Regions from separate parts of the Homo sapiens genome. Here region 2 is linked to region 1. Evidence: fine-mapped expression QTL. Tissue or cell type: whole blood. Region 1 holds a variant in brackets; the other region holds the start of a gene. All regions are shown on one strand. Distances are from middle to middle.

Region 1 (10,887 bases):
GCTTCTGATTGAAATTGAAGCAAACAAACAAACAAAAACTAGAGTAAAAGGACGTTCCCACCAGACTTTTATAGTTCTTGAAGACAAAGACACTCTGCTTACCTCCATTTCAAAATACATTTTGAGTTTCCTTTTTCAATAGAAAATCCAGGCTGGCCACAATGGCTCACACCTGTAATCGCATTATTTTGGGAGGCCGAGGAGGGCGGATCACCTGAGGTCAGGAGTTTGAGACCAGCCTGGCCAACACGGTGAAACCCCCTCTCTACTAAAAATACAAGAATTAGCTGGCCTTGGTGGCGGGTGCCTGTAATCCCAGCTACTTGGGAGGCTGAGGCAGGAGAACTGCTTTAACCCAGGAGGCAGAGGTTGCAGTGAGCTGAGATCATGCCACTGCACTCCAGCCTGGGCGACAGAGTGAGACTCCATCTCAAAAAAAAGAAAAAAAAAAAAAAGAAAATCCAAATGCCCAAGTTCCCAATAAACCAAGGTACCCCAATGGGTATGAGGTTTCTGGGGCTGCGCTCCACCCACCCCGACAGCTACTGAACCCGTGGCCTCATGGGCCTCTGCACGGCTGGAACCCACCTGGCCCGGCTCCGCCCCCACACTAGCCCTGCTGTTCATTGGTCATAACTCCTCTTGGTTGCCAGTTATTGAAACCCAATTTAAACTGGATTAAGAGGAAACAAAAGAAGGGATTTTTGGAAGTTTCAAGCTACCACAGAAATGGCAGGGGTGTGGGGGGTGTCAGAAACACCTGTCACTAGGCCTGGCATGGGCCCTGGCTGTCTCCTCCTCTCGGCTGGGTTCTTCCCAGCCTTGTTTCCTCACACTGGCTTCTTCACGTAGCGGGAAACACATGTTCACATCTCTGAGCGTCATGACCAAAGAGTCAGGGCTTGCTCCTGTGTTCCCAGGGAAGAACTTAGACCAAGAGCCTGTCCTTGGACGGAGTGACTAGGGCCTGAGGAAGGGGCAGGAGAGGAGGCCACCTGGAGGGAGTGTTCCTCCCTGTGCTGGGCGGGGCAGCCTGGGCCTTGAGGAGTCCACAGCTCCCCTCACATCACACACTTGGAGGAAGAGTAAATGTCCCCGGAGGAAGAGTAAATGTCCCCGGAGAAAGGGGTTGCTGTCATGCGTACGCGAATCCTCCATGCCTGCGGTAGCCAAGCAAGCAGATCTCTGCAAATGTGTCTCCATCCACGGCCCAGGAGAGGGGCCACATCACCGGGCATGCAGCAGGAGCTATCTATTTAATATATTGCAACTCACTGCATGCAATGATTCCAATCAATAGGGGGCTTTCTGTGAATTTTGTTTAAAATAGTATTTATTTCAAAGTTATCACTACCTCACAAGTATTTTAGCAACTATTTATTTAAAAGTATCTTCTTGATGCAAAAAAAAAAAAAGACAAAGAAAAAGAAACTGTGAGCTTAAACATATTTGAATGGAGAGGAGGAATTCATTTGAAGTTAGTTTGATGGATTAGCTTGAAGTCACAGCAGAGGCTGATTTTAAAGTGACAGCAGCTCTCTCCCCATCTCCTCTCACAGCCTGCCCAGGGCAGCATGGAGGAAGGGGAGGAGTAGGAGCAGGGGAGGAGGAGGAGAAGGAGGAGGAGGAGGAAGAGGAGGAGGAGGAGGAGGAAGAGGAGGAGGAGGAGGAGGAGGAGGAGGAGATCTGCCTTGGGTGAGATCAGGCCAGGGCTGAACCTGTGAGATTCAAATTGGGGCTTCGTTGTTTGTGTACATTCTTGTGAAGTCATTTCTGGGACTTCGTCCCTCCCCACCTTGCTTGCTGTTGGCTGTCTCAAGGGATTTCAGGGACCTGGGAACTGTGAAGAATGTGCTGCTTGTGAACTTCACCTGTCACATGTTCTGGGAGGGGAGCAGGGAGGGAAGAACAGCTGCACAGTCCTGCCGAGGACACATTCATTCTCAGTTCTTGCCTAAGTTTCCAGGGACTACATCACTGAGGGCCACCCCCTTCTCTCCCACCCTTGCCACTGTAGGAAACTTCAGGTGTCTTGGTCCACCCAGCATTCAAACTCCTGGCTGGAAGGAGCTAGCGAAGGCCTGGGAAGCTGCAGGAAGGGATCTGGTGCTGAGCCTCCAGGCCACTGAGCCCAGAGTCACACCTGGCCAGCTTCCTCTCATTTCCTTCCTTCTGTGCTGAGGCCTCAGTTTCTCAATTCACCAAGACCACTTGCTGCCCCAAGGGGCTTCCCTTGTGTCCTTGGTCCTGCAGACAGAGCACAACCCTGGAGCTGCCCTTGCGGGCTCTACCATGTGTGGCTGTCCCACGCGGCTCTTCCCTACGCGAGGGCCCTAAATCCAGAAGGAATGGGTGGGCCCAGAGCAAAAGGTGTGATGGGATTTCCTCATAGACATCTGAATTGAGTAAGAGTCTTCTCAGTGGAGAGACATCCAGCCTTCAAGAGCTTTGGACATTTCCTTATGAAAGAGACTTGAAATTGAGGAACAGCAGGGAGATGAGAGAGGACTGGACTTGTTCTCTAGAGAGCAGCTTTTGGGTTGGTGACTGGAGGTGGGCACAGGGGAGGTGCAAGAGCAGCCCACCCCCTCCTCCTTCCTGCCCTTCAAAATGCCCAGTGCTGCCCTGCAAACGCTGGAACTGTGGGATGATCAGCCAGCCCTTGCAAGGCCTCTGCTTCCAGATAAAAGAGAAGGAGAGTCCCAGTGAGGCACTTGAGGAGAAAGAGAAGAGCCTGGGGAAGGTGATGTGCTGTTTTGAAATTATCTGACAGTTACTGAACCATGTGATCCATTTCCCTGACATTCTGACACAAAAGTCTTTGAGCATAACTTACAATATTGTTTCGTTTTTTTTTTTTTTTTTAGACGGAGTCTTGCTCTGTCGCCCAGGCTGGAGTGCAGTGGTGCAGTCTTGGCTCACTGCAAGCTCTGCCTCCTGGGTTCACGCCATTCTCCTGCCTCAGCCTCCCGAGTAGCTGGGACTACAGGCGCCCACCACCACGCCCGGCTAATTTTTTTGTATTTTTAGGAGAGATGGGGTTTCACCATATTAGCCAGGATGGTCTCGATCTCCTGACCTCGTGATCCACCCGCCTCGGCCTCCCAAAGTGCTGGGATTACAGGCGTGAGCCACGGCGCCCAGCCAATATTGTTTCTTAAAATGAAGGAGGCATAAAAAAATCTCTTGAGCTTTTGTTCACACAGATTCCTTAGCAATTCCAGCTGAGTTGGCCGAGCCTGGGCGTCGCGTTCTGCATTTCTCATGGGCTCAGGTTGCTGGCTGCTGGTCCGGGCACCGCACTCTGGGCAGCACTGGCTGAAAGCGTGGGGCTGGTGGTCCTGCGGGGTCGTAGATGTGTCACCCACCTGGAGGGCAGCTCGTACTCCTAGTTCAAGCCTGACTTGCGGAAAGTTTTGCAAAGATTTCATAAGCCTCGCTGTTGTGACACCCCGTCTGTTCTCTTTCCAGTTCTGTGTCACGGTGACAACCCACAGGTCAGAGGAAACTAGAAAAGAGGTTTCTGGTATGAACTGTCCTGAGGGCTCCTCTCCTCTGCTATTTCACGATTTCCGCACCATCACCGGGTTCAGCAGTATTCTTTGATGATCCTGAGTTCTCTAAATTTAGCTTCTCAATCAAGCCTGTTTCTGGTTACTGGAATGGGCAGATGGAGTGGGAAGACAGGCAGTAACAGACCCTTCTAAATCTACCAAAGGGGCCAAGACAACTCCTGCTTACAAAAGGCAGCACGTCCATCAAAATCTGTGGCCATCCAGGTCTGCTCTCTCCCAAGGAGGAAGGAGCCAAGGTTTCTCCAAAGAGGAAGAAAAGGAGACAGGGGGAGAGGAAGGCACAGGGCACACTGCTCACTTTCCCACTGGAGTTCATTCCATGCCCATTTGAATATCATGTGAGCTAATGAAACAATTCTGACTTCCATAGCATCTGGCTTCTGAAAACCGCTAATATTTCTTAATGCTTTCCCATGTAAACAGTCAAAATAATCGTGCCTTAATTTAAATAGCACTTGACAGTTGATAGTATATTTTTATCTGCATATCTTACTTGATTTTCATAAGAAACTTCCAGTGTAAAAGTGGCCCTGCCAAAAAATAAAAGTGAACCTAGAAGTCATTGTTATACCCACTTCCAAGCTGAGAAAATCGAGGCCTGAATGAGTGAAGTGACTTACCAGAGATTGAACAATGGCCTTGTCTCAAAAGCCAGTTTTCTCAACATGGAAGCTTGTTGGAAGGATGTAAAATATGTATTTAATGACTCATTAGCAAAATGGAGATTTTCCTTTAAGTAGTTCTTATGATACAGATAACAACTATGTTTTGTTGTTGTTGGTTTATTTATTTATTTATTTATTTATTTACTTACTTTTTTGAGATGGAGTCTCACTCTGTCGCCCAGGCTGGGGTGCAATGGCACAATCTTGGCTCACTGCAAGCTCCGCCTCCCAGGTTCAAGCAATTCTCCTGCCTCAACCTCCTGAGTAGCTGGGATTACAGGTGCACGCCACCATGGCTGGCTAATTTTCGTATTTTTAGTAGAGACAGGGTTTCACCATGTTGGTCAGGTTGGTCTCGAACTCCTGACCTCACGATCCACCCGCCTCAGCAACAACAATGTATTTTTAAACTGCATGAGTTTGTAGAGATTATTGTAATCTATCCTCCTTTAAGAGATAAGGAAACTGAGGCTTAGAGAGGCTGAAATACTATGATCCAGAAGTTGTCCAAATCTGTTTTATGATTTATGACCTTAAGCACGTTAATTATATTTTAAAATTCTACTTCATTAAAACATCATGGGAAGGTACAGCAACACGACATTTGCAATGAGGTTATTGCATAAACAATCATAAGGCAGAAGGGATGTGAATCCTGTTTTTAGTGCACTAGTAGGAAATTCATACCACATCCTAAGCTACTCCAGTCATTCCACTGTGCAAACCAGAGCATGAAAAATGATCTCGGCTCATGACTAATCCACTGCCCTGAGCCTGGGGACGTTCACACCTACACTATCTGTGACATGGAATTGTCTATTCTTGAAAAGCATCGTCTTCTGTAGCGGGGAAAGTCAGTTAAGCAATTACTTGCTGAAAAGCTACTAGGAGCCAAACATTGTGGAATGAACATGACTATGACTATGCTTGCCCTCAGAAGGCTTATAACCCACAGCCAAAAAGACAGAACCTATGCAGTGTGATGTGAGCAGAGGAAGGAGAGACTTAATGAAGTGGATGGTTAGGTGAAGACTTCACATTTTTTTTATAGATCATGGGGGCAGAATTTCAAAAAAATTAGAGAATGGAAGAAATATGGAATTCTAATTCAGATAGTTTCTGCTTCAAAGTTGGCTAGTCATACAGATGGCAGTTGAGTAACTTCATGCAGAGTAAAGAAATACCACACCCAGGACTTTGCAGGTTGCTCAAGCAGATGGCCACATGGACCCTGGCTTCCTCAGAGCCTACTGTGACTAGAGCACAACCAGTACAAGTGACAAGAGACCCGCCCCATGTGTGCACTTGCTACTCAAGCTTCTGACATTCACCATTCCCCACACTTGGGGAATCTCATACCAGAAAGTCTATTCTTGGCCCAACAGACTTTCTGTTCCACTGTACTTGTCTCAACTACCTGCAACAGTGAGGAGGCGATGAGACAGGTAGAGAATTTGCAGGCTACGGAGTGGAATTCGTATATTTTATTCCTCAGTAAGGAGCCAAATGAGTAAGAAGGCGTGTTTTCACCGGAAGCCACAAGCTAAAGCAAAATAGGCAAGAAGCATAAACGGACTTGCTCAAAAGCCTCTCTCTTTCCTCAGAGCCCAGCTAGCCCACGTGTGCCTTTGTGAGACAGAAAAAGACATCCTCTCCTCTGGATTTCTGCCTGCTCACTGTCGGCCCTCAGCCAGGCCCCCTGGGCCTTGCCCTGCCCACACAGCCACACAGCAGCCATGTTCCCCACCCATGCAGCAATTTCAAGTGTGGATGACAAACACCTGGAGAGAAGCAGCAGCTGGTGTCAGAAGGAATGACAGGGGAGGGGGACAAAGGAGGCAAGCCCAGGTGGCATGGAGACTCAGGACCTCCTTAAGGCCTCATAAGTCACTGAATGTGTTTAGAGCAAGGAAGAAAAGATAAATGACAGCTACAGGTAGAGAGGCAGGAGATGAGTCTGAAAAGAGCCTGTTTGCCACCAAAAACTTATTTCTA[G/A]GCTATTGATGGCAGGTCACATAGCACGGTGAAGTTGTTCTCAAAGTGTGGTCCGTGTGGACCAGCCCCGTTAGCACCACCTGAGAACTTATAGTTGGAAACACAAATTCTTAGGCCCCATTGAAGATGGACTGAATTAGAAATTCTGGGATTTTTAGCGAGTCCTCCAGGTGATTCTGATGCATGTAAGAACCTGGAGCCACTGGCAAGGTGGCCGGGCAGGGCCGGCTCTGGGGGTTTCCATCCTGCTGACTCTCAGGAAGTCACTTTGCCATCTTAAGTTGTGTGCGCCTTTTCTCCATGTAAAATAGACGTACTAACAGCACCGGCTTATATAGTCTTTTTGGAAATTGAGATCACATATGGAAAACATTTTGCATGGTGCCCAGCATATGGCAGGCAGGGAATACATGTTTGCAATTACTGCTGCCAGCCAAAATGAAGCAGCAAGTGTGCTTGGAAGACTGCAGGCCTCCGCAGTCCCCAAGTTCAGCCTGTCCCCTGAGCGAAGAAAATGAAAGAGATGCAGGCTGGCGTCCAGGGAGAGCCCAGAGGGAGAGAGCAGTGCCCGGTCCATAACCACCTAAGGCCCTGGAACACCACAATGGCTCAGAGCCCAGGTGAGCAATAGCACCTGGGGCTGCACAGCGCTGGGCTGGGAAGCTTAGCCTGAGGGCTCAGCGCAGGCTTTGAGAGGAAAGCGATGCTTGAACTGGGGTGGGGAGAATGAGTCATGGCAATACCCAGCATGTATGGACTGTGTGCCGGACATGACTTTGAGCAATGCCAGATTTGAATCATGTAATCTCCATTGTGATTAAGTAATATTTTGATACCCATTTTAAAGATGAGGGAAAAGAAAATAACCTTGACCAAGGTCACGGGGTGAGGTGGCTCAGATAGGATTTGAACCCGAGCAGACAGACTCCTGGACCCACGCACCTCACCAAGTGTGGTTGGCTAGCGAGCCGAAAGAACCCTGGAGGCAGGGTGCTGAAGGAGGGGAGAGTGGTGTGAGGCTCTCTGTTTCTCTTATTAAATCCAGTTCTAGGCCGGGCACGGTGGCTCATGCCTGTAATCCCAGCACTTTGGGAGGCTGAGGTGGGTGAATCACCTGAGGTCAGGAGTTCGAGACCAGCCTGACCAACATGGTGAAACCCTGTCTCTACTAAAAATACAAAAATGAGCTGGGCATGGTGGCAGGTGCCTGTAATTCCAGCTACTCGGGAGGCTGAGGCAGGAGAACTGCTTGAATCTGGGAGGCAGAGGTTGCAGTGAGCCGAGATTGCACCACTGCACTCTAGCCTGGGCGACAGAGTGAGACTCCATCTCAAAAATAAAATAAAATATAATAAATAAATCCAGCTACTAGGTGTCTGGTGTGTCCTACCCTCTGTGGATGGCACGGCTGGTGGGGTGCACCACCGGAAGGGTGCAGCTCCCTGGTGGTGGCTCCAACTCAACCATGAAAAGTCATACGCTAAGAGACTAATTCTGCATGTAAGAAATCATGTGAGGGGGTGAGAAACAGCAAGCTATAAACAGATGGTGTAGTCATACATACACACACACACACACACACACACACACACACTCATTGGAAAAAATTCCCAAAGGACATACACTAAAATGTTTACAGTGGTTATCACTGAGAAAAAATATTAAATGTTAAAGTTGATTTTTACTATCTTTTATCTGCTTTTTTTTTTTTTTGCATCTGCTCCTGTACCTATGTGCAATGATCATGTATTACTTTTGCAATCAGACAAATACATAAGCTCTACTTTAAAACTGTTTATTTATCTACCAGGTTAACGACAAATACTGAAACTCAGTCTTGGCCTGAACCTGGTGACCTGGAGCTGGTGGAAGGCCTGGTGAGAGACAGCTCAGACACTGGCTCACTCTTTCCTGGCTGAAGCCTGACTCCTGGTGGACAGAAACATCAGCGACAGACTTCTATTTTCAAACGTCTACATACACATCTTAGGGAAAGTTTATTTATCCCCTCATTTTGTCATTCAACAAATATGTACTGATCACATTCTACATGCCAAGCATGATGGGAATGTAAAAATAAATTTGAGATGACGTCTTTGAGGAAAACGGCTTCTCTCTACTTTCGTTCGCATTTTCTTGTGTTTCAATAGTAGGGTATAGTGTGGTAGTTTTCTTCATGTAAGTCCTACTCCTCAGTTACAATTCAGTTTCTTTCCAGGTTGCTACTGAGAATGGAATATTCTTCTTGGTGTCTTTTCTGATTACAGTAGTGGCCCGGAAGCTATGGATTTTCATGGGTTGTTTCCATGTGGCCACTTTACTGGACTGTTAGCTGTTCGGACTCTTCTTCTTGGCTCTCAAGGTATACAATCACACAGAAAGAATTTTGTTTCTCCTAAAATAGAGCAGTAGTAGTTCTCATTTCAGAGATCTGTGCACACTGGGTATTCTCCACCCTTCTCGCCTGGCTTTTTAACCAGGGAAACTTCTGGTTGGTCCTGCTAGTGGGAGGGACTGGCAGGAGATGAGGGCAAGAGAGAGAGGATTCAGACCATGCATTTCCTTCTCCTACCCCCAGGTTCCCTACTCAAGAGGTGCAGCAGCTGCTGAGTTCTTTGCCTCCACTCAGGGCCGCAGTTCCTGTCTGAAGGCTGCCGGCCACCTCCTGCTCTCCCAGGGCTCCCTGCCTGCTCCCACCCCTTGCCTCTCAGGCCTTGCCAGGGAATTGCTTCTCACCTTGTGTTGGTCCCCTGAACCTCCCCTATACCTCTCTAATACTTGTGATCCCTGATTAAAAGTTTCTCAGTGGCCTGAGGGGATCATCTGCATCCTCCCCGGAGCCTGACTGGCTTTAGAGCTTCAAAACATTTAGTTTTAAATGATTGGTTTTTATGAAGATTTGTTAACTCTATTAAAAATATTTACTTCTGTTTGGTTTCTGCTTAAGTTATAAATGCCTTTGTGGGCTCAAACTGCCTGGAACTGCATCTATGAATGTGTAGTAGTGCTTTCAAACTGTAGTCGCTACACAAAGGTTAATTCATCAAAAAGTAAGAGATCCATGGCATTTATATGAAAGTATAGGAAAATCATCCTTTCTAATATAACATCAGTATCAAAAGGCCGGTTCTCTCATTTGGAATTAATTGATAACATTGTCCAGGTTTGATGACTTGTATCTGGAAAAGATGAGTTAACATCCATTCTTGTTGTAACAATTGGAACAAATCTCTGCAAGTCACTATTCTTACTGTTCTTAAACTCAGGTTTGGCTGTTATGAGGGTGAACAAAACTACCAAATACACTTGGAACATAAGGAATAAATTGTGTTTGGTGGTTATGTTGCTTTTTCAGAATCAGTACATAACTTGTGATATTTATTTATTTACTTATTTATTATTATTTTTTAAGATGGAGTCTCACTCTGTCACCTAGCCTGGAGTGCAGTGGCGCGATCTCGGCTCACTGCAACCTCCACCTCCCAGGTTCAAGCGATTCTCCTGCCTCAGGCTCCTGAGTAGCTGAGATTACAGGTGTGCGCCACCACACCCAGCCAATTTTTATATACTTAATAGAAACGACGTTTCACCATGTTGCCCAGGCTGGTCTCAAACTCCTGATCTCAAGTGACCTGCCCGCCTCAGCCTCCCAAAGTGCTGGGATTACAGGTGTGTGCCACCGCACCTGGCCCATAACTTGTGGTATTTAAATGGCATCATATGGAAGGGCTGCCCCCAATTGTTGAATACTACTGTAAACAGGCAAGAGATGTGCCTCCCTCACCAGAAACTCTGACTCACTGCATTAGTTTTTCCCAGGGTTTAGCTAATGGTGTAAACTTTCAGTCATGCTCACTGTGGTATGTGAGAGGTATTCATTCAGGCAGTGAATATCTGCTTTAAAAACTTTAAAAATCTGCTTTCACAAAATAAGATTCTTTGAAACCAAAAAACAAGCATTTGCAAACTTTCAAGCTTGATTTTACAGTTACAGAAAGTTGGCTGCTCAGTGCCCCGCTGCTGGATACAGCAGAAAGTGTGCTGCAGGCTCTCCCCAGCACCGCGTGCTCCAGCACAGGCCCCGTGTCCGCGTTACACACTGTGTTCAGGGCCGCATGTCTAATAGGATGATGGATCTCAAAAAGCCCTCATCACTTATCTGTTGGCTTGAGTTACGATGCTCACATATCGTCCTGGCATAAATTCACACCTGTGCCTTGACCACCACTGGGATCCGTCCCTTGGGAAACTGGCAGGAGTGAGTCATGACGGAAAAGCTTGTTGAGGAGTTAATGTCACCTCCGGTTACATCACAAGCACACTTCTTATTTGGAAGTAACTCCATCCCCCAACAAAAATTTTTTTTTTTTTTTTTTTTTTGAGACGGAGTCTCGCTCTGTCGCCCAGGCTGGACTGCGGACTGCAGTGGCGCAATCTCGGCTCACTGCAAGCTCCGCTTCCCGGGTTCACGCCATTCTCCTGCCTTAGCCTCCCGAGTAGCTGGGACTACAGGCGCCCGCCACCGCGCCCGGCTAATTTTTTGTATTTTTAGTAGAGACGGGGTTTCACCTTGTTAGCCAGGATGGTCTCGATCTCCTGACCTCGTGATCCACCTGCCTTGGCCTCCCAAAGTGCTGGGATTACAGGTGTGA
Region 2 (10,887 bases), 48 kb before region 1:
GTCTCAGCTCTCTACAAACTCCACCTCCCGGGTTCCAGCGATTCTCCTGCCTCAGCCTCCCAACTAGCTGGGATTACAAGCATATGCCACCACGCCCAGGTAATTTTTGTATTTTTAGTAGAGACAGGGTTTTACCATGTTGGCCAGCCTGGTCTCGAACTCCTGACCTCAGATGAACCACCCGCCTCGCCATCCCAAAGTGCTGGGATTACAGGCATGAGCCACCGCACCTGGCAATTTTAGGTCATTTTTATAGCCAGCTAACAATCCTTTTTTTTTTTTTTTTGAGACGGAGTTTCATTCTTGTTGCCTAGGCTGGAGTGCAGTGGCGCGATCTTGGCTCACCGCAACCTCCGCCTCCCGGGTTCAAGCGACTCTCGAGCCTCAGCCTCCTGAGTAGCTGGGATTACAGGTGCACACCACCACGCCTGGCTAATTTTGTATTTTTAGTAGAGACGGGGTTTCTCCATGTTGGCCAGGCTGGTCTCGAACTCCTGACCTCAGGTGATCCACCCGCCTCAGCCTCCCAAAGTGTTGGGATTATAGGCGTGGGCCACCGTGCCCGGCCAATCCTTTATTACAATATAAGCTTACTCTTGTTTATCTTGTCCTCAGAGTAATAATCGGAGGCTTCGGTGAACGCCTCATTCTTCGTTCTGAATTCCCAGGCAAACTTTTTTGCACCATGATTATGCCATGCAGATCGTTTCTGTCATGTACTTTGCTTCCTGTATCTTGCTGTTTATACTGGGACCTGAATTCCTCTTGTTGGGGCTCCATTTTCATTCAAATTATAGTTATTCTATCCATGCAGTTTAGAGAGCTTTTTATTCTCCTTATCATTCATCAAGAAACTGAACTGAGCAATGTTGTATCATCTGTCCACATGGCTTGGTTTGTTCTGAGCTATAATCTTCATTCACTTATTCAGCAAAATTTCCTAAACAACTACTATATGCCAGGTGTTTTAGATACTGGGGACGCAGCAGTGAACAACTGGGTCAAAGCCTTATTCTCCTGATGTTATGTTCTATTGAAGGAGATAGGCAACCAGTTTCTGATGGTGACTGAGGCTACAAAGCAAACAGAAAGTAACTCGGGATGAGAACAGAAGCCAGGGAAGGTCTCAGGGAAGAGGTGGCATTGAGCCGAGACCAGAATTAGAAGAAGGGGTGAGTCATCTAGAAAGAGGCAATATCAGGGACAAAGACCTGAAAGAAAATGAGCCTTCTAAGGTGAGACACTGAAAGGAAGCTGGTGAAATGAGGGGGAAAGAAGGATGCGAGGTCAGAGGAACTCCCCAGTGGACTGCTTACATGGATATTTGCAAGAGAAAATTAAATTATAGACATTCTAGGTACCCCAGTGAGGAGGACCAAGCTGGACTGAAAAGGAGAAATTACGTGATGTCCTGGCATTTATGTCTCAGCGGAAGCCAGTGATTTGTATTTTATAAATGATGGAATTCTGCCCTCTGGAGGATGAAGCTGTGTTACACAGCTGAAATTTTAATGCTAGGTTTCTTCCATTATTTGGCAGAAAATGAAAGGACTAAAAGAAACCCTGGCCAGGCGCGGTGGCTTGCTTGTAATCCCAGCACTTTGGGAGGCTGAGGCGGGCAGATTGCTTGAGGTCAGGAGTTCGAGACCAGCTTGGCCAACATCGTGAAACCCTGTCTCTACTAAAAATACAAAAAATTAGCTGGGCATGGTGATGCACACCTGTAGTCCTAACTACTCAGGAGGCTGAGGCAGGAGAATCGCTTGAACCTGGGAGGCGGAGGTTGCAGTGAGCAGAGTCAAGATCGTGCCACTGCACTCCAGTCTGGGTAACACAAAAAGACTCCGTCTCAAAAAGAAAAAAAAAAAGAAAAGAAAAGAAAAAAGAAGAAACCCTGAGAGATTATTTTATCTGTTTCTCTCATTTCAATCACGTAAGCTGCCTAAGATAGGAAAATGTAAATGATTTTAGACTTTCCTGGAAGCGTCTTGTTATCTGCAACCACTGTCCAGGGGCCAAAATTATTCACTGTCATGAAATTAGTCTCACCCAAAATTCTCAGACTATTATAAGAAAACATTATCTGTAAAATGATTTTGTGTTATTTTTCTAGTTGTGTTTATAAGTTACAAATTAGTTTTTTGGTGTTTTTTGTTTTTTATTTTTGAGACAGGTTCTCACTTTGTCACTCAGGTTGGAGTGCAGTGGCGCGATCATAGCTCACTGCAGCCTCATGCAACTCCTGGGTTCAAGTGATCCTCTCACCTCAACCTCCCAAGTAGCTGGGACCACAGGTGTGTACCACCACACCCAGCTAATTTTTAAAGTTTTTTAGAGATAGGGTCTCCCTATGTTGCCCAGGCTCAAAAAATTATTTATTAAAAACAAATGTAATAATTATTTTCATATTTCTCCTTTGCTATACTAAATACAGGCTATGGCACACAAAAATTGCTTTTTTTGAGTTTAAAATATTTCCAGTTGCTGAACTGCTAGTGGATTACTATACATTTTATCTTTTGAGGATAAAATAAAATATATTACCTAAAATAAATCACCTAAAATAAATTACCTAAAAGAAAATATATTATTTTATTTTACCTAAATAAAATAATAAAATAAAATAAAATATATTAGTACCTAAAATAAAATATATTACCCAGCGAGCACAACATGGAAATAATTTACCCACAAGAATTATATTTAACATATTTACAAAACGCTATTGTGAGACTTTTAATTTCACCATGCTGCAAGTTTATTAAAAGTGTCACAATTCACTTAATAGCAGTTTCTTAAACTGAACAAGAAAACAAGCTAATTCAAAATGACTTGAAGAGTGAAGAAAAAAATTCTCAAGATGCTTCTGAGAGTTCTGGGTGATCAGTAGCAGCTCGTTTGAAGAGCCAGAAAAAGTCTAAGTTCTACTTTCAGGAGCTGGAGGCAGGAGGAATAATTCAGGAATAATTCAAGGTGGAGGAGAATAAGGAAAAACGCTTAGGAGACTGACACTTCTCCATATTATTGTTGGATGAGATGGGCTAGGAAGACTCGGGGGCAGTAATGTGGCCGTGTCCACACATTTCTCCTAGACAAGAGGGATAAGAACAAGGCCGGCTTCTCAAGAAGAGCCCCTGTCTTAGTCTTTTCCTGCTGCTTTATCAAAACATCTTGTAAACACTAGACACCTATTTCTTACAGTTCTGGAGGCTGGGAAGTCCAAGGCTGGGAAGTTCGAGATCTGCAGGTGCAGACTCAGTGTCTGATGAGGGCATTTTCTTGCGGTGTTCTCATTTGGTGGGAAAGGCAGAAGGGACAAATGCTGTGTCCTCACCTGACAGAACAGATGTTTTATGGGCTGAATGTGTCTCCCCAAAATTCATATGTTGAAACTTTATCACCAATGTGATAGTATTAAGAGGTAGAGCCTTAAGAAGTGCTTAAGTCATGAGGGCAGAACCGTCATGGGTGGGATTTGGGCCCTTGAGGGAGTGCGTTCATCCCTTTCCATCCCTCCCACCGCCACGTGAAGATACAGTATATTTCCCCCTTGGATGCAGCAACAAGGTGCCATTTTGGAAGCAGAGAGCAGCCCACACCAGGCACCAAATATGTGGATGCCTTATTCTTGGACTTCCCAGCCTCCAGAACTGTGAGCAATACATTTCTGTTTTTAATAAATTGCCCAATCACAGGTATTTATAGCAGCACAAATGGACTATGACAGAAATTGATACTGAGAATGGGATGTTGCTATAACTAATACCTAAATATGTGGAAACAGCTTTGAAACTGAGTAATGGGTAGAGGCTGGAAGAATTTGGAGATGCATGCTGGAAAAAGCCTGTATAGACATAAACAGAGCTTTAAGGGAAATTAAGGGTGAGGGCTCAGAAGACAAGGAGAGCTGTAGGGAGAGCCTAAATCATCTTAGAGATTAATTAAGTGGTCTGGTCTTGATCAGAATGCGGTTAGAAGTATAGATGGTAAAGACACTTTTGATGAGATCTTAAAAGGAAACTGGAGGAAAGGTCATCCTTGTTACACAGTGGCAATGAACTTGGCTGAATTGTGTCTATGTCCTAGTGTTTTCTGAATGGCAGAACTTAAAGGCAATAAACTAGGATATTTGATGGAAGAAATCTCTGAGCAAAGCGTTGAGAGTGCAGCATGGCTTCTCTTGACTGCTTGTAGTAAAATGTGAGCAGAGAGAATGAATTAAAAACGAAGTTTATAATCAAGAGGGAAGCAGAGCTTAAAGTTTTGGAAAATTCTCAGCCTGGCCATGTAAAGAATGAAAAGGCATGTTTGGGAGGGAACACCAAGAGTGCTGCCAGGTTCACATTTGATAATGAGATGAGTATGTGTAGAAGGAAGCCAGATGCTATTTATCAAGACAATGGAAGAATGAACCCAAAGGCATTTCTGAGGTTACTGGTTCTGGATTCTCATCCCTGTCCCAGAGTGCCAGGACCCTGAGGGCAGAATAGTTTTAAGGGAGGACTCAGGACACCATGGAACCTTGGGGCTTGCTGCCTAGGGCTGCCTCAAGTCTCTGCCCCCCCACCCCCCACATTCTGGTGCAGCACTCTTTGGCCACCATCCCACGTGTGGCTTATGCAGGCCCTTGTCAGGCCACCCTTCCTGTAAGCCTTGGCAGAGTCCACGTGATGCTAACTCTGCAGGTGCACAGAGTGCATGAACTGTGGAGACACAGCCACCTCCACCTAGATTTTGAAGGATGTGTTGGGGACCCTGGGGGCCCAGTCTGAGAATTGTCACTGAGGTGAGGCTGCTGCAGAAAACCCTCACTAGGGCAATGTTTAGTGGAGCAGTGGGATTGGGGCCACTGCAGAGAGCCCCAAATAGAGTAATATCTAGTGGAGCTGTGGGAACAGGGCTGTCCCTGAGAACCCAGAACTGTCCAGCCACCAGCATGCAAGTCTATCCTGGGAGAGCCTAGACCTCAACCTGTGAGAGCTGCTGCATGGGTTGCACCTGGCAAATCCATGGGAGTGGATCCCCTGGACACTAGGGGACCCAGTCTCCACCCCCCTGTGCTCGGAATGGGGGACACAGCATCAAAGAAGATTATTCTGAAGCCCCAAGATTTAATGCTGTTTGCCTTGTTGGGTTTGGACTTACTTGGGACCAGATACTCCTTTCTTCTTGCCTGCTTCTCCCTTTGGGAATGGGAATGTACGTCCTATGCCTGTCTCATCACTGTATTTTGAAGGCCTGTAACCTATTTGATTTCACGGGCTCATAGCTGGAGGGGAATTTCACTTAGGATGAATTGTACTTTGAATCTTATGCCTTTCTAATTTAGAAGATATTTAGGTGAGACTTTGGACTTACATTTTAAAGTTGATACTGGAACTTTGGAGGCCACTGGGATACAATGCATGCATTTTGCATGTGAGAGGGGTATGAATTTGGAGGGCAGGGGCAGAATGCTATGCTTTGAATGTCTGTGTTCCCTGCAAAATTCATGCTGAAACAATCCTCAATGCAATACTAACAGGTGGTGCCTTTAGGAGGTGACTGGATTATGAGGGCACCTTCCTCATGAATGGGATTGGCCCCTTATACGAGAGACTTCACATGAGATTTGGCCCCTTTTGCCCTTCCACTTTCCACCATTGAGGACGCAGCAGCAAGCTGTCATCTTGGAAACAGAGAGCAGGTGTTTGGAACTGGTTCTGTTTCATCTGATTCTGGGGGCCCCTCTTTTTCCCTGTGCAAGATCCCCAAATTTGCTTCCTTCTCTCAAAGAAAGCTCCCAATATAGATGGGACTCAAAGGGAGTCATTTGCCCTCTAAGAGGTGTCACAATATGTCGTCTCAGTCATTCACACCTTAGTAAGAAAAAGCTTTTCAGGTCCTTGCCAGAGATTCGGGGAAAGGCTTTGAACTGAGAAAGAAGCCGCGCCCCTGAGGAGGGCGCTGCCCGGAAGCCACGCTCACTTCTGCTTGCACTTAGGCGACCTCGGGAGCTCGGACTCCTACGCAGTCACCGGGAAGGGCCGCCGCCCCGCCCGCGGCTGCTGGCCCGGGTGACGCTTCCGCCTGCTATAAGAGCAGCGGCCCTCGGTGCCTCCTTCCTGACCTCGCACCCAGCTCGGAGCCCGGAGCGTGCCTCGGCGGCCTGTCGGGTAAGGCCGGGCCTCGGAGCGGTGGCGCGGGGGCGGGCGCGGGGAGAGGCCAGGCTCCCTCGCTCAGCTTCCAGCCCGGCACCCCCCACCCCCCAGGCTCAGGCCCCTCAGACCCGCAGCTCCCTGCGCTCGCCCTCCCCGCCAGCTTCGCGCCCCCATCCCTTCCGGGCGCCCCGACGGAGACAGACGACCTCTGATCCCCCGCCCCCGCCTGGGTACAGGCCGGGCCAGCCCGCGAGGGAGGGAGGGAGGGAGGACGACAGATGCAGGCGGAAGGCAAGACTGAAACCTGAGATCAGAATGTTGTCCCTTCTCCCTGAATTCCCTTCCTCCCAGAGCTGTTTGTGACGGTTTCCAGGCAGCCCAGGGCCAGGCCGCGGCTCCTATCTGCAGCTGCAGGGAGAGAGAGGAGGAACCCCGTGCGATTCTAGAGACGATTTCACAACAAGGAGAAATCAGCTTTGTGCTTACATGCCGAGCAGCCAGCACGGTTCTTCTTTGCCTGTCCTCGGGGGAAATCAGGGCTCTGAGAGTGGAGATCGAGATGGGCTAGTGGGTGGCGGATGGGACGCTGCACGGCCAGACCCTGGACTGTGGTGGGTTTCCAAACTGGCACATCCTACACCGGCTCTGAGACTGTGGGCACTGGACCTCATACCTTTTGAACCTCAAAAATAAGGAAGAATTATATTATTATAATAATTACAGTGATACCTTTGCTGGAGTTTTAATGCATAGTAGGTAGCTGAGTCTCTGATAGAAGGCTCTTAGTTCAGGTGAAGGTAGGCAATGGATTCATTGCCCAATGAATCAGAGACTTGAATCAAAGGCTCAGAAGCACGTGCGCTCCCACACATAGGTTGGGAAGACCCAGGGCTGGGTGGGCCCTCCCACCCCACTAAAGCTGGGGTAGCTGGGGCCTGCCTTACCCCCGCCCCACCCCCAGACTCACCTGTCTGCAAGGTCAGAGCCCTTTAGGGCACCCTGGGTGCCCTAAAATCCCCTATAACTGCTGAGTCCTTGGCCAGAATGGTCCCACATTTGTGGGCCTGGGAAAGTGTTCTTGCCCTGCTGGAATAAAAAAGCGGGGAGAAAGTACAAGATCCAGGATGCCTCAGGGCGGTTGGCAGAAATTGAGGAAGCTTCTGGAGAAATAGTGCTGCCTAATCTGCTGGCGTGGGCAGTGGGCACCATGAGGACCCTGTTCTGTGTTGCAGTTTTCACCATGGAGCAGCTGAGCTCAGCAAACACCCGCTTCGCCTTGGACCTGTTCCTGGCGTTGAGTGAGAACAATCCGGCTGGAAACATCTTCATCTCTCCCTTCAGCATTTCATCTGCTATGGCCATGGTTTTTCTGGGGACCAGAGGTAACACGGCAGCACAGCTGTCCAAGGTCAGCAGAAACAAAAAAAAGGGTCTGCTTTCCTCCCATCTCCCTACGAATGGACAGTCTGCATGGAAAGGTTGTGCCTTTGAGCTCTTACCTTGTGTTTTCAGAACTGTATTTTTATGAGATCAGACTTTCAGAAAAGTCACACTTGTATGCAGGCTTCCATTCATCATCAGGTTTTTCCTAAGTACCTACCACGTACCAGGAACTGTTTTTCGTATTGCTGAGGAGACAGCAGTGAGCAAAGCTGACAAAAATCCCTGCAGGGCGAGGCTTCTGTTCCAGTGGATGAATCTGACAGCTTTCCTGAAAGGCATACTACATCCTCCTGAGCTAGCATCTTCCAGTTTTTGCTTTGCATATGATGATATGCAACTCATAAATATTGCCTGTTATATAACACTACTTTCAAGCATAATGAGAGGAATAAGACATAGGGAATGCATTATAGTGGAGATAGTGGCATTGCTTTTTTGCAAGGAAAAGAGAAAAAGTGACCCTGTGGTTCTGTAGTCCCAGGGTGCTGCGCATGGCTCAGTGGGCTGTGGCATAGCACGCCCTGCAGGGGAGGTGAGGGGGAGACCCGCAGCTTCAGGGGCGGGACCCAGCCCTTGGCGATGTGACAGGTCACTCTCATGCCCAGCCTTCCTTCTTGTCCATAATGGACATGGAGAGGACTTCTGTGCTTGGTACTCTTTAATTCTGAGAAGAGAACTCTAGCTCTCTCTCTCTAAGCTCAGCAGAAAGGAGTGGTAAAAGTGGAGGCTCTTCTAACATACCTGCCGCAAATTACACTGCACCTGTTCCTTGGCAAGGTGCAGCCTGGGATTCAAGTTCAAGGGGCTGCGAAACTTCTATTACTCATCACTTTAGATATGAAAGCATTTTAAATGTTTTTTTTAAATCCATTAAAAAAAAAAAACCTCTGTTACTAATTGTTAGTTGCTTCTTGCAGGGTTATATCAGTTCCTAGCTTGAGGTTTTCCAGGGACTTTAAAACCTCAGCAAAGAATAGTTTTAAGGACTCCTCCCCCATTTCCATTAAAGCAGATGGAGCATAGGCACAGTGCAAACATTCCATATCTCGGTGAGTAATGTGGACTTCGTACCCTATGCAATTTTGTTCTTTGTGTCTTAATCATAAAGGAACCAGCCTAGGTCTCATAAAACCACAAAGGGCCTCTTGATTTGTAACTGATACATGGGGAATTAAACTTTTGCCAGAATGTTAAGTTTAAGGAAGTTATTTTAAAATAAGTGAGTTACTGATGTTAATAGGGTAATAAAATTTTAAAAGCTTCAGTCTGTACTATCTTTGTGGTTCTGAATAGAGGATGAATCCTATTTTTACTGCTTATTTCTGAGAACTTTCAGTAAAATTATATTTGATACAGAATATAAATATGAACATACCATTTATTATTTTCTTTGGAAAAGGCAGACTTATATATAAATATTTAGTATCTTAACCACCCACATTTGTGGAACTGCAAGTGTAACAAAGAGTGATGTAAAAGCAATGTGTAAAGTTGTAAACATTCTGTCTCACGAAGCCATAAATTTTGGATTTCCTATTGTTTGTTCTGCAATGACAAATTAATAAAGTATTGGGTTTGGGATCATCAATAATTAGTAATAAAAACACATTAATTTAATGTGATAGAAGGAAACACCAAGGAATCACTTTATAGTTTCAAAATAAATGGTTGTAGAAAGAAGATTTTCTTTATTTTAGACTTTCCATTTCAACACGGTTGAAGAGGTTCATTCAAGATTCCAGAGTCTGAATGCTGATATCAACAAACGTGGAGCGTCTTATATTCTGAAACTTGCTAATAGATTATATGGAGAGAAAACTTACAATTTCCTTCCTGTAAGTACTTTGCCCTTCACATTCTAAAACCCCACTAGACAGTGCAGATATTTTCCAGCACAATCAAGTCATGGAGGTCAGTTTTAATATTTGTAAACTTTCAGAAAAACAATACAGAAGGCAAACATGGCAAAAACAATATGGAAGGCAAACACGACAGAATGCAAACTTTAATTGACATGGTGATTTTGTGTTACAGTCTTTTTAGTGAAAAGATAGCTCTTGGAGGTTTTACTGAAGCAAGAGTACAATCAGTGTTTGTGAAATCTTAGTCAAAGTTCAGAAAAGAGTGGTAATTTCTATATAACAACAACAGTATAAGGGTTAGGCTTACCACTACTGGAATGCACAGTTAAAAGTGGCTAAGATCGTAAATTTAATGTTAAATGATTTTTACTACTATAAGAAAAACTATAAGAGTTAGAAATTTTGTGTTACATGGAATTGTAGCCTTTTAGGACAATTTCTGTTGCTTTTTGGGATTTTAGAAAACAATTTCTATATGTAGTAGGAGTTATATATATATTTCCTTTTCCTTTTTTTTAATAGGAGTTCTTGGTTTCGACTCAGAAAACATATGGTGCTGACCTGGCCAGTGTGGATTTTCAGCATGCCTCTGAAGATGCAAGGAAGACCATAAACCAGTGGGTCAAAGGACAGACAGAAGGTGAGAGCCTGGGCAGAATGGAATCATTATGCGCTGGTCATGTCATTCGTTTCCTCAGTCCGCCTTCCCTACCTGCAGTTATTCCCTCCCCAGCTCCCACAGTCCTGGCGCACATCGTGGTTACAGTCAGAGGACGCTGCCGGTGCGTGAAGTCTGCACTGCACGTTGCTGGACAGCTCTCACATGTTCGAAGTTCACCAGAGTGGAAACTTAAACATGATTTAACTCAAGCAGCTAAATCCTTTTTTCTCATCAGCTCCCCAAAACTTTTAAAGTTGCATTTCAAAGTTAAAACCAACATTGGCAGGCGCGGTGGCTCATGCCTGTAATCCCAGCACTTTGGGAGCCCAAGGCGGGCGGATCATTTGAGGTCAGGAGTTCAAGACCAGCTTGGCCAACATGATGAAACCCTGTCTCTACTAAAAATACAAAAAATTTAGCCAGGTGTGGTAGCACACACCTGTAATCCCAGCTACTCTGGAGGCTGAGGCAGGAGAATCTCTCGAACACAGGAGGTAAAGGTTACAGTGAGCCGAGATCATGCCACTGTACTCCAGCCTAGGCAACAGAGCGAGACTCCGTCGTAAAAAAAATAATAAAAATAATAAAAAATAAAAAATAAAGTTAAAACCAACACTGAATACAGCAAAAAAGGAATTAAAATTTTGAGGAGAATTCAGCCTGCCAAAAATTACCTAATACTCATATGGAAAGAAATGTCCTGGAATTTCATGGAAATACCTGAAATCAATATTCACAAACTACTGTGGTTGTAAATTTTTTGCCAACATCTTGTCCAGTA

What was found. PIP is the estimated chance that this variant, and not a neighbour inherited with it, causes the effect.
Region 2: SERPINB1 starts here. The variant in region 1 is fine-mapped to the expression of SERPINB1 in whole blood (TOPMed, PIP 0.95).

The regions. Positions count from the first base shown.
Region 1 is chr6:2,788,645-2,799,531 of GRCh38, reverse strand. It overlaps LOC124901241 (a long non-coding RNA gene), which reads left to right. Exons shown (of 3, transcript XR_007059408.1): 3 at 8,046-8,341. Among named protein-coding and RNA genes, the nearest start is that of WRNIP1, 29 kb to the right of the region's middle. RefSeq lists silencers at 1,628-1,732, 8,003-8,297 and an enhancer at 8,003-8,297. The variant G/A (reference allele first, on the strand shown) is at 6,236.
Region 2 is chr6:2,837,080-2,847,966 of GRCh38, reverse strand. SERPINB1 (serpin family B member 1) reads left to right here and starts at 6,104. Exons shown (of 7, transcript NM_030666.4): 1 at 6,104-6,155; 2 at 7,373-7,548; 3 at 9,281-9,418; 4 at 9,968-10,085. The coding sequence starts at 7,381. RefSeq lists a silencer at 6,160-6,209.